Linked DNA regions of Homo sapiens. The protein of the gene in region 1 purifies or fractionates together with the protein of each later gene. This does not show direct contact. Each region holds a gene or a part of one and is shown in the gene's direction. Other genes may lie near its edges.

The links.
Region 2: the proteins of PHF20 (region 1) and SGF29 purify together in Homo sapiens (affinity purification with mass spectrometry, with the first as the bait; one large-scale study listed by BioGRID). This does not show direct contact.

The regions. Positions count from the first base shown.
Region 1 is NC_000020.11:35,939,293-35,943,195, forward strand, and holds part of PHF20 (PHD finger protein 20), read left to right. Parts: intron 1-1,571; coding exon 1,572-1,755; intron 1,756-3,903. UniProt on the Homo sapiens protein: Methyllysine-binding protein, component of the MOF histone acetyltransferase protein complex.
Region 2 is NC_000016.10:28,560,191-28,564,093, forward strand, and holds part of SGF29 (SAGA-associated factor 29), read left to right. Parts: intron 1-3,903. UniProt on the Homo sapiens protein: Chromatin reader component of some histone acetyltransferase (HAT) SAGA-type complexes like the TFTC-HAT, ATAC or STAGA complexes.

The DNA.
Region 1 (3,903 bases):
CTTGGTTCCAGGAAGCACCCACAAAATGGCATAGTCAAGTGTGGCACGTGGGGTGGGGGGCGCGGGTGCAGAGGGAGGGAGAGGTGGGAAGTAGCAAGGAGATATGGATTAGCAAAACTCATCTTTTCTTTAAGGCAGTTTGCATTATAATTGCACCTAGATGTTAATTCTTAGCATGAGCAAACAATGAGTCAAATGTTTTGTTAGGCAGAATTTTTTCAATCCAGTTGTATGATAGCTTTATTTTGACTTTTAACTTTGAAGCCCTGTGGTAAAAATGGTACACTTTGTCAAAATATTGCTGGTTTCATCAGTTTTCCCAAGAGCCACTTTTGGTTTTTTGTTATTCAAGTCATTCTCTTCTAGAACCCCCTTGTATCACCTCGTTGCCGGTGTTTTCATCTCTAACTGCTCACTAGGCTCATTGTGCCCTGTCCTCAGTTGTCAGTGAGGCTTTGTATGATTTGAGAGTTTCTCTGTCTCATCATCCTTACTTCCCAGACTTTCTCCTGCAGGTTGGTGTCACCAGTGTTAAATACATTGCTGCATGGTGCCAAGGGGATCCTAGATTACAAGCCCCTCAAGGGAGGGGATTGTATCTCATGCATCCTTGTGCCCTTGACTATGTCTAAACGGTGTTGGGCAAGGTGGTAAGAACACAGTCTTTTGAGACAGACGCAGTTTCAATTCTGAGCTCAGCCCCTTACTGTGTGATTCTGAGCGGGTTACTTCACTTTCCTGATCAGACCTGTTTTCTCGCCTGTAGAATGGGGCCAGTGAAGCCCCCTCAGTTACTGTGGAACATATTTGTGAAAATCCCTCAGTAAAATCCCTCAGTTTTGCACATAGTAAGTACTAAATAAATATTGGCTAGAATCTATTTCATTTCAAATGGATGAATGAAAGGTTGAGTTACCAAATCCTAGAAAAGGTTTGTGGTCCTGTGGATCAGGCAGGTTTCCTAGAGGTATCTGGCACATAAAACAAAGCCAGGAAATACTGGGCCTCAGCAAAGCAACCAGGGCTAACAGTCTTTTCCATTGATGGTAAGCTGACTGTAAGCTGGCCTTGCTTTTATGTGCCTTACCCTATTTCATCCTCATGAACCTTCCAAATAGGTTTTAGTACCCCCATCCTCCCACCGAGAAAGCAGAGGCTCAGAGACATGAAGTAGTCCATCCAGACTCGCACATTCGCAGGAGATGGAGCTGAGACTTGAAACGCGTTGGTGTGACTCCCGTGTACTAACCCTTGTCTGCACTAGCCCTGCTCTAATCACCTCTCAGGGCTCTGGAAGCCATTCTGTGAGGCTTACTTTAGGCTAGGACATTGGCCCAGTCAGTAGGAAGCAGCTGTGGGTCCCCTGAGCTAGAGTGCTACCCTGAGGTAGTTGGAATTGGTACAGTGGGCAAGCTCCTGCCCAGTTCCTAAGTGGGAAATAGGAAAGGGAGGTAGGGATTTGGAGTATTGAAACTGCAGCTAGTATTTCAGGTGGCTGGAAATGCTGGCTGGTTGAAAAATGGGCCAGGGGCTATCTCCATTCAGTAATTTCCATGCCATTGCATCCCCAGGTGAAGGAATATGTCTCCAAAAAGGCCCTACCAGAAGAAGCCCCTGCTCGGAAGCTGCTGGACAGAGGTGGAGAGGGGCTGCTGAGCTCCCAGCACCAGTGGCAGTTTAACCTGCTGACCCATGTGGAATCTCTTCAGGATGAAGTTACGCACAGGATGGACTCCATTGAGAAGGAGTTGGATGGTAGGGCTCCTTCATTGGCCCCCTGTGCATTGGCATGCAGTCGAGCACCCCCAGACGAGCTGCTTTCTGAACCCCCCAGTCTGAGTTTACAGGGACCGCTGTACTCTTTGCTTCTCTTCTTTTCAGCCTCTCCCCACCTCCATTCTCCCCTCAGGATGGATGAGCCTTACTTTTAGTATTTATCAGGTGCAAGATCTGCATGATGTTGGGTCCTGCCTCACTTGTCTGATCCCTTCTGTAAAGTTGAGTATGCAGAGAGAGGGCAACTGGCAGTCCTGCTTGCAGGAAATATGTGATCTAAGCCAATCTTTACAAACAAGTTCTGTGAGAAATTAAAATTTTGACTTGAGTTTTAGGATATCTGAGGATTTAATCTGAAAAACCTCTTATTCCAATCTTTGATAAAATCTAAAATGAAGCTTTCTCCTCGTAAGCCAGTAGAGATTTGAGAATTTGCCTGAGTCATTTGTATAGCCCTGAGTATTCCTTCCAGATATTGGTGGTTACGGACAGGCCTGGAGGATCAAACCGGTGATGATGAACATGATCAAGTTCAGTCTCTCTCCAGGAAGTTGACGGTTTTGGTTGTTGAAATATTCCCTAATTATTTGTTTTCATGTTGAAAATGGAGCCCAGTTAAAAAAGAAATGTTGTTTGAGGATTCTGGGTACAGTCTGGCTATGATTTTTTACTGTAACTGGGAATATAAAACATACATGAAATAACTCAGGAGAAAATGCCATCTGTTATACAAGTGATGCCATGAGGTGTGGCCGGGACACATGTGGCTGATGTCAATGCAGAGGAGGAGAGTGCTAATAGGAGGGCTTCCTAAAACTCCTGAGACTGAAGTTGAGCTTTAAGGAGAGTGATGGTGTTTCCTACTGGAGAGGACTCAGGGTGGATGATCTGGCTAGACTGGAAAAAGAGTTGCCCTGTTGGAGGACAGTGAGAGAGACAGCAAGACCTAGGCTGGGTGTGGTGGCTCACACCTATAATCCCAGTACTTTGGGAGGTCAAGGTGGGAGGATTGCTTGAGGCCAGCCTGGGCATCACAGTCTCTACAAAAAAATAAAAAACTAGCCAAGTGTAGGGGTGTAGTCCCAGCTACTTGGGAGGCTGAGGCGGGAGGACTGCTTGAGCCCAGGAGTTGGAGGCTGCAGTGAGCTGTGATTATGTCACGGTACTCCAGCCTGTGTAACACAGACCCTGTCTCTAAAAAAATAAACTAAAAAAAAGGGATTGTAACTGATGCCACTGTCTGTGAAAAACATATTATTAGAGAGCTGAAGGAGGATATAATGTTAGACAAAAAAGTGTAGCTCTTGAGAGAATGGCAGTAGGAGTGGCTCTGTAGTCCCTGAAAAGAGGATTAGCACCATGGAAACAGGGTGAATGTTCGGTTGTTGCCACAGGGACCTTCCCTGAGGGAGAAGTTAAAGTCTACTCACATCTTACTTCCTTAATCCTCTCTTCAGCCAGGTTTGGCCTCTCTAGCCCTGCCGAATGGGCAGTGTGGCAAGGATGGTAGGCCTGAACCCCCTTCTTTGGCCTCACAGATGACCTCTTGTGTGTCTTGCTAATTCAGAGCCACATATTCTGTACATTTCTAAGACTCTAGGCCCTGAGAGAGATAACAAGAAAGCATTAAAATAAATGATAAAGCTTAAAGATTTTATTTAGGTAAACAGACTTTTGCATAGTATTTAAGATTAATCAAAATCCCTTTTTATGGAATCAACTCTTTATTTAAACACCAAGATAAACTAAGCTTTCTTTCTTTCTTTTTTTTTTGAGATGGAGTCTCGCTCTGTTGCCCGGGCTGGAGTGCAGTGGTGCCATCTCAGCTCACTGCAAGCTCCGCCTCCCGGGTTCACGCCATTCTCCTGCCTCAGCCTCCCGCGTAGCTGGGACTACAGGTGCCCGCCACCAGGCCCGGCTAATTTTTTATATTTTTAGTAGAGACAGGGTTTCACTGTGTTAGCCAGGATGGTCTCGATCTCCTGACCTCATGATCCGCCCACCTTGGCCTCCCAAAGTGCTGGGATTATAGACGTGAGCCACCGTACCCAGCCCTAAACTAAGCTTTCATAACCAAGTTTTAAAATAGGAATTTGGATGTAACATTCCTTTTTTAAAAAGCCGGCC
Region 2 (3,903 bases), on another chromosome or scaffold:
TCCAGCCTGGGCAACAGAGCAAGACTCTGACTCAAAAAAAAAAACCACGAAAATTTTAAAATATATTTTTACAAAACAGGAAAATATGATCTGTGTTCACAAAAAAAGGCAATGAATGGGCCCGGCACAGTGGCTCACGCCTGTAATCCCAGCACTTTGGGAGGCTGAGGTGGGTGGATCACGAGGTCAGGAGTTCGAGACCAGCCTGACCAACATGGTGAAACCCCATCTCTACTAAAAATACTAAAATTAGCTGGACGTGGTGGCGCACACCTGTAATCCCAGCTACTCAGGAAGCTGAGGCAGGAGAATTGCTTCAACCTGGGAGGAAGAGGTTGCAGTGAGCCGAGGTTACACCATTGCACTCCAGCCTGGGCAACAGAGCGAGACTCTGTCTCAAGAAAAAAAAAAAAAAGAACGAAAATTTTAAAATATATTTTTACAAAACAGGAAAATATGATCTGTGTTTACAAAAAAAGGCAATGAACGGGCCCGGCGCAGTGGCTCACGCCGGTAATCCCAGCACTTTGGGAGGCCAAGGCAGGCGGATCACGAGGTCAGCAGATCGAGACCATCCTGGCTAACATGGTGAAACCCCGTCTCTGCTAAAAATACAAAAAATTAGCTGGGCGTGGTGGCGGGTGCCTGTAGTCCCAGCTACTTGGGAGGCTGAGGCAGGAGAATGGCGTGAACCTGGGAGGCGGAGCTTGCAGTGAGCTGAGATCGCACCACTGCACTCCAGCCTGGGTGACAGAGCAAGACTCTGTCTCAAAAAAAAAAAAAAAAGGCAATCAACGAAGATCAACCCCAAGAGGACCCAGATGTTGGTATCAACTGACAAGAATTCTAAAAGAGAATCAAAATAATTAGTTAAAATAAATTTTTTTAAAAATTTAAAGCAGTTATTAAAACTTCGTCAGGCCAGGTGTGGTGGCTCACACCTATAATCCCAACAATTTGGGAGGCTGAGTCGGGAGGATCGCCTGAGCCCAGGAGTTAAAGACCAGCCTGGGCAACATAGTGAGACCCCATCTCTACAAAAAGTTTAAAAATTAGCTGGACAGGCACAGTGGCTCACGCCTGTAATCCCAGTACTTTTTGGGAGGCTGAGGCAGGCAGATCACCTGAGGTCAAGAGTTGGAGACCAGCCTGGCCAACATGGTTAAACCCTGTCTCTACTAAAAATACAAAAATTAGCTGGGTGCGGTAGCTGGCACCTGCAATCCCAGCTACCTGGGAGGCTGATGCAGGAGAATTGCTTGAAACTTGGAGGTGGAGATTGCAGTGAGCCAAGATCGCACCACTGCACTCCAGCCTGGGCAACAGAGCAAGACTCCGTCTCTAAAAACAAAAAACAAAAAAACACAAAAGGTGCAGGGGAAAGAAAGAAAGAAAAGATGTGGCCTTCTAAGTCAGTGGGAACACGAGCATGCTAGGAGTCAAAAAGTTTAGGGTACTGGGCGTTACCTCAGCATTCCTAAGAATGCTTGAAACCTTGCTGGAATTGCTGAGCCTCTCAGGGTTTGGGACAGTTTTGTTTACATGATAGAATTGTGATAAGATTAGCTGGCACCCTCGGACTCTGATAAAACCAGCCACTTGGCCTGGAAGTGCAGTGTCCCCTCATCTGGCCTTCCAATTCATTATGGTTCCAACCCCAGGGCCTCATTCCCACTTGCTTTGCACCAGCAGGCTTGGCATTTGTTCTCAGAAGGTCACAGAAACCTTTGCTTCTACTTAGAACATGTTTCCTGGGGAAGTTTAGACTTATGACTGACCAGATCCAGAGATAGCAGCACTTTGATGTAAAATCATAGGAAGAGCTTGTTCTCTCAGACAAGCCACTACCCAGTAGGCAAAGCTCAAACGAGAGCCCTTAAATGGTGTGGTCTTTGGCCAGGCCATCATCGTGGGGTTATTCCTAGGTTTGGCAAGCGTCAGCATTTCTTTTGCTTGTGCGATTGGCTCTTTTGCTCAGTGTAACAGCAGACCCCTGGCCTCCAGATGAGAAGGGCCACTAGCGTTCACTAAGTGCATGCTCTGGGCCGGCCACTGCCTAGGACCTTTCTTAGATAGTTGATCATCAAGTAGGTGCTCTTGTTTTAATTTTATTGAGACCCAGAAAGGTTAAATAATTCATCCAGGGTGAGTGTGAGGCTTTATGAGAACTTTACAGTTGTTCTCTCCCTTCCCCCTCCTTGGACTATTCCTGGAACATGAAGGTCCAGTTCCTTTCCCTGATGGCTGTATGGCAGGTGGCGTACTTCATTTCTTTGTGGGAAATTATACTTGTATTGATGCTGGGCATGCTGCTCGCCTCTTCAGTGTTTTCCCAAGTAAGGTCTGACAAATGGGGATCCAAGCCCTCCTGTATTTCAGGCTTTATTTTGGGTACCAAGATGCAAAGACAATCCATTAAGACAGTTCTTGGCCGCTCATGGTGACTCATGCCTGTCATCCCAGCACTTTAAGGAGGCTGAGGCGGGAGGATTGCCTGCGCCCAGGAGTTTGAGATCATCCTGGGCAACAAGGCAAGACCTCATCTCTACAAAAATATTTAAAAATTAGCTGGGTGTGATGGTACATGCCTATAGTCTCAGCTACTTGGGAGGCTGAGGTGGGAGGATCACTTGAGCCTGGGAGGTGCAGGCTACAGGGAGCCGAGATTGGGCCACTGCACTCCAGCTTGGGTGACAGAGTGAGACCCTGTCTCAAAAAAAAAAAAAAAAAAAAAAAAGACTTAGTTCTTCTACTTTTAAGGGGCTTGAAGTCTGAGTAGAAGACTCTTCCACACATAGAAAGCAGTCTTAAAAGGGTGTGTGTGCTCTGATTGTGGTTATATAACATTTACAGAAGGTGGATACAGAATGAAAATCACTTGAGGTTGTTGGGATTTGCTTTAAAACATCCTTTAATGTTGCATTTTTCTTTCACCTTAATTAGGGGAAAAAGGGAGATAATTGGAAACAGGGGTGACCAGAGTGCTCTGGGGAGGCAGAGGTTCTGTAATAACTGTTGGTAGCCAAGGAGGCCACAAAGAAGAGAGGATGTTTGCGTGGTAAGAGTGTGTTGCCATTCGCCAGATACGTGCCAGAGGCAAGGGACATCAAGGCAGTGGGCACAGTTAGATGGTCCACTTTGAAAGTTCGTGGCTGATGGGATCCAGGGATAGCAAGAGCTTATTGTGAAATTACAAAATGAGGTGGTTCTGCCAGGCTAGGCACTACCCAGTAGGCACAGTGATCTTCCAGACCACGTGGTCAGCTCTCTCCCTGAAAGTTTCAACCTCTGTGTGTTGTGTGTCTATCTGTGTGTCTTTGTCAGCAAAAGCTTTTATGAGATACACACCATTTTTTCTTGTTATATGTACATGGGATATCTTTAAAGGAATACCCAAGAAACAACTAGTTGCCTGTAGCGATAGGAGATTTCGTTGTATTTCAAAAATAATCTGAATTTTTTTACTACGTGCATATATTGTTTACTCAGTTTTGTGTGTGTGTGTGTTTTTCTAGAGAAACAGACTTTTTTTTTTTTTTTTTTTTTTTGAGACAGAGTCTTGCTCTGTCACCCAGGCTGGAGTGCAGTGGCGTAATCTCGGCTCACTGCAACCTCCACCTCCTGGGTTCAAGCGATTCTCCTGCCTCAGCCTCCTGAGTAGCTGGGACTGCAGGTGTTCCTGAGTAGCTGGGACTACAGGCGCACACCACCACACCTGGCTAATTTTTGTATTTTTAGTAGAGACAGGGTTTTGCCATGTTGGCCAGGCTGGTCTTGAACTCCTGACCTCAGGTGATCTGCCCGCCTCGGCCTCCCAAAGTGCTGGGATTAGAGGCTTAAGCCACTGTGCCTGGCCAAGAGAAACAGACTTTATGAACAACCACATGAGACAGTGAGACAGGT